Homo sapiens: one gene and its partner. The protein of the gene in region 2 interacts with the protein of the main gene of each other region in a biochemical or structural test. Each region holds a gene or a part of one and is shown on either strand. Other genes may lie near its edges.

What was found. Proteins that work in one complex are often made in the same cells at the same time.
Region 1: the proteins of BIRC2 (region 2) and RIPK4 form a complex in vitro, tested with the Homo sapiens proteins (one study listed by BioGRID).

Annotation. Positions count from the first base shown.
Region 1 is NC_000021.9:41,752,600-41,757,052, forward strand, and holds part of RIPK4 (receptor-interacting serine/threonine-protein kinase 4), read right to left. Parts: intron 4,218-4,453; coding exon 3,926-4,217; intron 1-3,925.
Region 2 is NC_000011.10:102,356,117-102,361,524, reverse strand, and holds part of BIRC2 (baculoviral IAP repeat-containing protein 2), read right to left. Parts: intron 1-5,408. UniProt on the Homo sapiens protein: Multi-functional protein which regulates not only caspases and apoptosis, but also modulates inflammatory signaling and immunity, mitogenic kinase signaling, and cell proliferation, as well as cell invasion and metastasis.

The DNA of each region.
Region 1 (4,453 bases), on a different chromosome or scaffold from region 2:
CGCCAGCTCCCCAGAGGAACGCCATCACCCGACCCTGCAAACCCCGGCGGCTGCTGGACGCTGGGACACAACAACGGGTCCTAACTCTCCAAATAGCTCCAGAGCACAGGAAGTTTCAGTTCAACAGTCATCAGTGGCTTGAAAGCCTTCAAATTCAGAAATGGGCTGAACAATGAGAACACATGGACAGAGGGAGGGGAACATCACACGCCGGGCCCTGTCGGTGCGTAGGGGAAGAGGGAAGGGAGAGCATTAGGACAAACACCTAATGCATGCGGGTCTTAAAACCTAGGTGATAACCTAGATGGTGGATGGGTGCAGCAAACCACCATGGCACATATAAACCTATGTAACAAACTGGCACATTCTGCACATGTATCCCGGAACTAAAAGTAAAATAAAAAATAATAATAAAAATAAAGAAAGCATCACATACTTTCTAGGCAATTCCTCCTCCCCCTGTATGGTTGAATGTAGGAAAAAAATATCTCCCTCCCACGGTTAGTTAAGGATCAGACTCACTGTTCTAATCTTGCCTGTACAAGTTAGTAGCTCCGTGGCCCTGGACTATTAGCCTCTCTGTGCCTGTTTCCTTTTTTCATAAAAGGAGGCAATAGCAGTACCCATCCTGTAGCTTTGTTGTGAAAATTAAATGACATCTGAGATCATTAAGAAAGAAAAGAAAAGAAAAGAAAAACGACAGGGGTGCAGAGATCTCAGCCTGGTGCTTCCCCAGGCCTGCAGCCTTTTCTCCTCCTGTCTTTGTCAGATAGAGCCAGCCACTCCAAACTATACTTGGTGAAAAGAAAACGAGCAGAAATTCTCTGTAAAACCTCTGGCAACAAAATGCAAGCTCGGAATTGAGAATTCTAGGAGGGTCACTGACCCTCTATGTTCTCCTCCCTCCATGTCTCGGACTCCTGGCCGGCTGCATTTCCCCTCCGCCTTTCCTCATCTTCCCACCCAAGCTGCCCCTCACCCCGTGTCCTCAACAGCGAGCTACTGTGGCATCCACTCTGACCAGCAAATGCTTCAAGAGTTACAAACACTCTCATCAGCACCCGACTCTGCATCTCCAAGAGCTGAGGGCTCACAGCTGCCCCCAAGCACATGGCCCTTCAACTTCAAGGTCCAGCTGTCAAGACTAAGAAAGCAGCCTGCCGGGGTTTTGCTGCCTCTAAAAGAAAGACACAGCAGAACGTGACCCGCGTGTGACCCTTTGAAAAGCGTCTGTTTTGGGCTAACTGGACATATAAATGCAGCCTGAGATTTTAAACCAAGTTATTTCATTTTTAAGTTGAAATTGATTCCAACTAGTATCTTAATATTGGTATTTAGTATATGTAATGTTGAATAATATCAAGCATTAATTTGATACTATTACTTTGTATACTATTTACATTTAACTGCTTCATGAAGTAGACAGTTGCTGTGATATTTCCAGTTTGAATCGAGCCCTGAGCACTGAGGGAGCCCATCTCAGAGGCGAATGGCAGCACTGGAATGGCAACTTAGGATCTAATTGCAGGATTCTGGATTACAGTTTTCCTGCATTGAATAACTGTCTACTGAGGACTGCCCAGAAGCCCAGTGGTCAGTCCATGCAAAGCTTCCACACTTCGTCTTCAGGAACAAAGGCGCTGACTCTCAGAACCCCGACACACACTCCCTGCTGCACTCTACGCACACCAGTAGCTATTTCACAGAAAAAATAAGTATGTCACGTAAAGGTATTTTTCGGTTTGTTTTTGGGCTTCTTGATGGTGACTAACATGCCTGATTAAGAAGGACGCCACACAAAAGCAATCTTTCCTGCGGCCTGTCAGGGTACACAGGGCCCTAAGATGTCCCAGGGGCACCACACAGAGATGTCCTGTCACTTCCTGGCCAGCACCCAGCGTGCCTTCGACAGCAGCCTCCCTGAGAAAGCAGTTCCAGGCAGCATCCGCCCCCTGCAGCTGTCCTGAAAGACAGGGAAGCCCTGCTGCCTGCTGCCCCTGCAGGAAGGCCCAGAGCTCTCTGCGTCTCTTGGGCTGTTTCCTTCACCTAAAGGCTCTGCTGCTGCCTGCCCCGACTCCTGAGGGCAGAAAAGCCCCACCCTGTGTGAAGGCCCAGCCCCAGGAGCACTCCCACCCCCTCCCACAGGGCCGCCTCTAGGCCCAGCCTGCGGGCCACACACCCTGCCCCCAAGTGACTGCTACGTGCAGTGGTCATTTGGTTTCTTTCATGTCAAGCACAGTGGCAGGCCAGGTGGAAATCAAGGTCTCTGCTCCGTGACTTACAGCTGGACGATCCTGGCTGCTAATTTACTCACTCTAAGCAGAGACTCAGCGAGAACCAGAGGCCACCGTCCACTCTGCACCTCTGCTCTGAGGATGAGGGCAGCTCCCGCAGGTGAAGCCTCTAGCATGTCCTTTCCGGTATTCAGTGCACGTTGGACGGCAGAGCTTACTAGTCATTAGGGCCCCAGAGCCTGTGCTACCTAGAAACAAGCCCGTAAATGTTGGCGGGAATGGGGGGTCCGCATGTGAGGCCCAGCCCTGCCCATCACAGGAAACGGGAATCCCAGGGGTCCCAGAACATAAGCAGATGCGGGAAACCACCAGAGAGCCCGTTCAAGCCAAGTCATTTGATTTTTGTCTCCATTATCTCAATTTCCTACTTCACTTCGCAGGACGGTGCTTCATCTTCTAGCTGAAATCTTATTACTGCGCAACACCTACCTAAGAGACAACTTATAATTACTGCCCGAAGTGAAAAATTGACCTCCTCACCACCGCCCTGGCTGAGCAAGGCACGCGAGATGCACTCGTCCGCAGAGTCTGGGCACAGGGAGCGGCCGTGCGCATGCCATACGAGCCACCGCTCCCGTCCCACCCAAGAGCTCAGGGGCAGGGCCGGGCCCTGAATTCAGGTCTCTCCTAATTAATGGTCAGGCCATCAGAGAGGCCTGGAAGTGCTGTGCCACCAGGAACAGTAGCACAGCCAAGCCAGGCAGGGGACTCCTCTGCTTGTCCCCTGCATGAACTACATGGATCCGGACCATGGCTCTCGGCTCCTTCTCACTCCCAGGGCAGACACCAGTGTCATGTGGACCAGCCTATCACCCTGGGCCTCCCAAGAGCATGTGAACATCACCACGTGGGGAAAAACTACAACGCGCCAGGTGTAACCACCACATGTCAACGACAGTACAACCCTAGCCACGAAGGCCATCAAAGGAGATACAAGGAAATACAGCCCTGATGCAAAGGTGATGATGCTAACACCTGCCAAGGCCCAGAGGCAACACTGGTTTTCAGTTACATTATCTCTCTTACTTTTCTGTGTTTCAAAAACCTATCAGCGAAGCAAAAGCAAGCTCCATCTCCCAGGCGTTGCACTAACGCAACACGCTGCCACTCCGCACTCTACGCAGGGGCAGACAGAGGCAACGAGCCCCTCCTCACAAGCCTCTTTCCACAGCACTTTGAGGACCCCACTGCAGAGGACCCCCACATTCCCACCACCCCGAGCTCCTGAAAACACTGAGGGAAATGCGTCCCTTTGTTGCAGAGCCTAAGGTCTCGCAAGGACACACCTGGCCCACGGGCTGAATTCTAACCTGATTTCATAAGACCAAAACCCACAAACCCGTAATCTTTTTCCGGAATGAGTCATATGCCAAGATTTGGGGGAACAGCCCCCATGTTCACCAAGCTACCCTCCAGCTACATGGCGTGTGGTTTTCATACCAACCAGGACAAGCTTAGGCTCCTGGAGTCCTCATGCTGCAAAAGGCCTCGGTTTCAAGCTCTTTCCTCCAAGAAGAACCACCTCCTCTTCTGCCCTTGTCCTGACCTCAGGGCTTGACCCCTTGATACCCTGCTCCCCAAGACACAGGCCCTCCCTGCCCAGCTCTCTCGGGCACCGTGCGGCCCCCCACCTTGACGTGGTAGTGGGCATCCAGCAGGATGTTCGCGGGCTTGAGGTCCAGGTGCAGGAGTGGCGGGGCCATGCAGTGCAGGAAGTTCATGCCCACCGCCGTCTCGTGGATGATTCGGAACCGGAGATCCCATGGCAATGGCTCCGAAGCCAGCAGCTTTTCCAGGGAGCCCGTCTCCATGTACTCCATGACCAGGCCGACAGGTTCGCGGCAGATGCCATACACAGGCAGGATGTAGCGAAACTTGGCCATCTCCATCTTCTTGGCTTCTTCCAAAAGCTCCATGCGCTCCCTGAAAAAGTTCAAAGGCATGAAGAATACGCAATGGTCACTCAGCCACAAACATGGAACAGCACCCTGGCCAGAAGACGACCAGCTCCAGAGGGCTGAGCAAATGCCTCAAGTGCACACACATGGGGCACACTTCAATGTCACATCACGAATGCAGGGCTTTCCAGAGTCTCAGTCCTGAGGCTGCTGAAATGTACCTATGCATCACAGGGTTATCACAAGTGAGGAGGAGGGAAA
Region 2 (5,408 bases):
GCTGTGAACCCCCTGGAGAGGGAGACACTACTGCACTCCTCACCCTGAAAAAAAGCAGCTCTTGCACTGCCCAGACAGTGCAGCCCCTAACCCCCACATATGCCCCAGACCCCAGAGCCACAGCTGCTTCACATGTACCTTCATGTAAGACCTTTGCTCTGTGGCTGCTCTAATCACACACTCTCCAGATCCCAGCTCTCTGGCTGCTCTGCACACCTGCACTCCGCACCCAACTCAAAGGCTGCTCTACGTGCACCCACATCTGAGGCACTAGAAGCACCACTGCTGCAGGCTAGTCAACATCCTGAACCCAAGACCCGCTGTCTTTCTGCAAACACTTGCACTCCAAACCTTGGCTCTGTAGCTGCTCCACAGGTGTCCACGCCATCAGAGACATCAGTGCTGCCACCTCCACCAACACAACAAGCCCAAAGCCAGAACCTGTGCCAAGAAGAATCCCCTTGGCCACAATGTCTCCCATGGGAGAAAAAGTGATGAAGAGGTCCCCAGCAGCCTCTGCCACTATAGACTAAAAAAAGCCTTGCTGCTGGTATGGATACCTGCAGCCTTGGATGTTGAGGACCCCTGCAATCCTCACTGACAATGATCTGGGCTAATGGAGCTGCATGGAGTTCACAATGCTGGGCCTTCCACAGAGCCAGAACCACCACACCTACTGGCTGGCGCCCTCACCCTCACCCTCACCCACAGGCAAAGATCTTTGCCCACAAAAAAAAAAACAAAAAAAACACACTAATCTGTAATGTCTAGAAGTAATTCGTCCATCAAATACACAGATAACACAAGGCCACAAGAAACAGAAAGAAAAAAAAAAAAAGAAACGTGACATTAGCAAAGAAACTCAGTAATTTTCCAGTAATCACCCACAAAGAAATGGAGATCTATGAACTAACAGATAAAGAATTCAAAATAATTGTTTCAAGCAAACTCAGTGAGCTACAAAAGAACACAGATAATGAAATAAAAAAATATATACAAACAAATGAGAAATTCAACACAGAGATAGGAATAATAAAAAGAAACAAATTCGGGAGCTGAAGAACATAACAACAAAAAATGCAATAGAGAGCATCAATAGCAGACCTGATCAAGCAGAAGAACCTGTGAACTCAAAGGCAGATCATGTGAAATTATCTAGTCAGAGGAGAAAAAAAGAAAAAAAAAAGAATAGTGGAGAAAGCCTACCTGAATTATAGGACACCATCAAGCAAAACAATATTTGCATTTTAAGAATTCAAGGCCAGGCACGATGGCTCACACCTGTAATCCAGCACTTTGGGAGGTTGAGGCGGGTGGATCACATGAAGTCAGGGGTTCAAGACCAGCCTGGCCAACATGGCAAAACCCCGTCTCTACTAAAAATACAAAAATTAGCTGGGCATGGTGGTGCACACCTGTAGTCCCAGCTACGTGGGAGGCTGAGGCAGGAGAATCACTTGAACCTGGGAGGTGGAGGTTGCAGTGAGCTGAGATCATGCCACTGCACTCCAGCCTGGGTGACAGAACAAGACACCATCAAAAAAAAAAACCCAAGAAAATGAAAAACAAACCCGAGAATTCAAGAAGGAAAAGAGAGAAAGGACAGAAAGCTGATTTAAAAAAAAAATGCTGAAAACTTCATAAATCTAGGGAAAGATATCCAGGTACAGGAAGTTCATAGGACCCCATAAAGATTCAACCCAAAGAAGACTTCACTGACACACATTATAATGAACTGGCAAAAATAGAAGATGAAAGAGAATTTTAAAACTGTAACAGAAAAGAAACTCATCTTCTACAAGAGAAACCCTATAAGACCACAAGTGGATTTCTCTGCAAAAACCTTGTAGGCCAGGAGAGAGTTGGATGATATATTCAAAGTGCTGAAAGACAAAACTACCAGACAAGAATATGTATCCCAGCAAAGCTGTCCTTCAGAAATGAAAGAGATATAAACAGTCCCAGACAAACAAAAGCTGAGGGAGTTTATCACCACTGGACGCGCCTTACAAGAAACGCTGAAGAGTTCTCCAAGCTGAAATGAAAGGACACTAATTAGCAACATGGAAACATATGAAAGTATGAAACTCACTGTTAAGATAAATATATAATCAAATTAATAATATACTAAATTTGTAATGGTCATGTGTAAATTACTTAATTCTAAAATACAGGTTTTTAAAAAAAAGTATTAAAAATAACTATAGCTTCAATAATTTTTTCATGAATACACAATATAAAATGCAAATAATGACATCAAAAACATAAAATATGTGCAGGAGGGTCTGAGTAACAGTACAGTTTTTTAATGCAATTGAAATTAAGTTGTTAGTGCTTGAAACAGACTACTATAACTATAAGATGTTCTATGTAAACCTCATGATAGCCACAAAGTAGAAACCAATAGTAGATGCACAAAAGATATAAAGGAATCAAAGCATACCACCACAGAAAATCATCTAAACACAAGGGAAGACAGCAAGAGAGGAAGAAACAAATAATCTGCCAAACAATCAGAAAACAATTACAAAATGACAGAAGTCTTTACCCATCAATAGTTACCTTGAATGTAAATGGGCCAAATTCTCCTATCAAAAGATAAAGAGCAGCTGAATGGATAAAGAAAACAAGATTCAGCTACAGGTTGTCTACAAGAGACTCAATTCACCTTTAAGCACATGCATGGGTATAGGAAAAAAGATATTCCATGCAAATGGAAACCAAAAGAGAGCAGAGGAAGCTAAAGTTTTATCAGATAGGGCAGACTTTACATCAAAAACTGTAAAAAGAGTCAGAGAAAGTAATTATATAATGAGAAAGGGGCCAATTCCACAAGAGGATACAGTATCTGTAAATATATATATGTACCCAACATCAGACCACCTAAATAAACAGAGAAAATATTAACAGATCTGAAGACATTAATAGATAGTAACACAATAATACTAGAAGACTTCAAAAATCCTACTTTCAATAATGGATGGGTCATCCAGACAGAAAATCAGTAAGGAAATATTGGACTTCAACTATACACTGGATCTAATGGATCTAACATACAGGTTGAATATTCCTTATCTGAAATGCTTGGGACTAGAAGTGTTTTGAATTTTACATTTTTTAGATTTGGGAATACCTGCCTTATGTTTACCAGCTGAGCATCCCTAATCCAAAAATGCAAAACCAAAAATGTTCCAAAGAGCATTTCCTTTCAGCATCATGTTGGTACTCAAAAAGTTTTAAATTTTGGAACATTTTGGATTTTGGATTTTTGGATTGGGGATACTCAACCTTTATACAGAACATTCCATCAAACAGCAGATAATACACATTCTTCTTAAGCACACAAGAAAAATTATCCAGCGTAGATCATGCAGCAGGTCACAAAACAAGACTCAACAAACTGAGGAAGACTGAAATCCTATCAAGTATCTTTTCAGACCACAATGGTATGTAACCAGAAATCAATAACAGAATGAAAGTTGGAAAGCTGACAACTATGTGGAAATTGAACAAAATACTCCTGAATAATCAATGGGTCAAAGAAGAAATCAAAAAGAAAATTTTAAAAAATCACAAGAAATATTAAAATTGAAATGCGACATAGCAAAATGTATAGAACAAATGCAGTTCTAAAAGGAAAGTTTATAGCAATAATCGCCTATATTTAAAAAAAATCTTAAATAAACACCGTAATTTTACATCTAAAGGAACTAGAAAAAGTTAGCAGAAGGAAATAACAAAATCTCATGAAATAGAGACTACAAAAACAATAGAAAAGACCACTAAAACTAAGAGCTGGATTTTGAAAAGATAAGTAAAATCAACAAAGCTTTAGTTTGACTAGTAAAAAGGAAGACGAAAATAAATAAAATCAAAACCAAGAGATGTTACCATTGATAACACAGAAACGCAAATGACCATAAGAGACTACCATGAACAATTATTCACCAAAAAACTGTATAACCTAGAAGAAATGGATGCATTCCTAGAAACTTGTAATTTATCAAGACTAAAATAAAGAAGAAATAGAAGATCTGAAAAGACTTATAACTAGTAAGGAGATTGAATCAGTAGTCATAACTCTTCTGACAAAGAAAAAGCCCAGGAACAGATGACCTCATAGCACAGTTCTATCAAGAAGAAGAAAGAAGAAGAAAGGAAGAGGAGGAGAAGAAGGAAGAGGAGGAGGAGGAGGAAAGAAGGAGGAAGAAGAAAGAAAAGGGAGGAGGAGGAAGAAGGAAGAAGAGGGAGGGAAGAGGGAGTAAGGAGGGAGGAGGGGGGAATACTTCCAAACTCATTTTATGAAGCCAAGCATTACTCTGATACCAAAGCCAGACCAGGACAACACAAGAAAAGAAAATTATATGCCAATAGCCCTGATGAGCACAGATGCAAAAATCCTCAACAAATACTAGCAAACCGAATTCAGCAGCCTACTAGAAGAATCATATATCAAGTGAGATTTATCCCTGAGATGCAAGGATGGTATGACATATGCAAATCAATAAATGTGATACCACACATTGACAAAATGAAGGATAAAAATCATATAACCAGCCAGGTGCAGTGGCTCACGCCTGTAATCCCAGCAGTTTGGGAGGCCAAGATGGGTGGATCACCTGAGGTCAGGAGTTTGAGACCAGCCTGGTGAAACCCCATCTCTACTAAAAATACAAAAATTAGCTGGGTGTGGTGGCATGCACCTGTGGTCCCACCTACTCGGGAGGCTGAGGCAGGAGAATCACTTGAACCCAGGAGGCAGAGGTTGCAGTGAACTGAGATTGCATCACTGCACTCCAGCCTGGGTGACAGAGCAACACTCCATCTCAAAAAAAAAAAAAAAATTAATAATAATAATAATAATATAAACATCTCAACAGACACAGAAAAAGCATTTGACAAAATTCAACACCCTTTCAGGATAAAAATTCTCACCAATTTAGCTATAGAAGGAATATACCTCAACATAAGGACCATAAATGGCAAGTGCACAGTTAACATCATACTCGATAATGAAAACCTGAAAGCTGGCCGGGTGCAGTGGCTCACGCCTCTAATCCCAGCAATTTGGGAGGCTGAGGCAGGTGGATCACGAGGTCAGGAGTTGGAGACCAGCCTGGCCAACATGGTGAAACGCCATCTCTACTAAGAAATTACAAAAATGAGCTGGGTGCAGTGGCACGCACCTGTAATCCCAGCTACTCGGGAGGCTGGGGCAGGAGAATCACTTGAACCCAGGAGGTGGAGGTTGCAGTGAGCTCAGATTGCGCCACTGCATTCTAGCCTGGGCAACAGAGCAAAATTCCATCTCAAAAAAAAAAAAAAAAAAGCTTTCAGCTTTTCCACTAACATGAGGAACGAGACAAGGGTGCTTACTCTTGCCACGTCTATTCAATATAATACTGGAA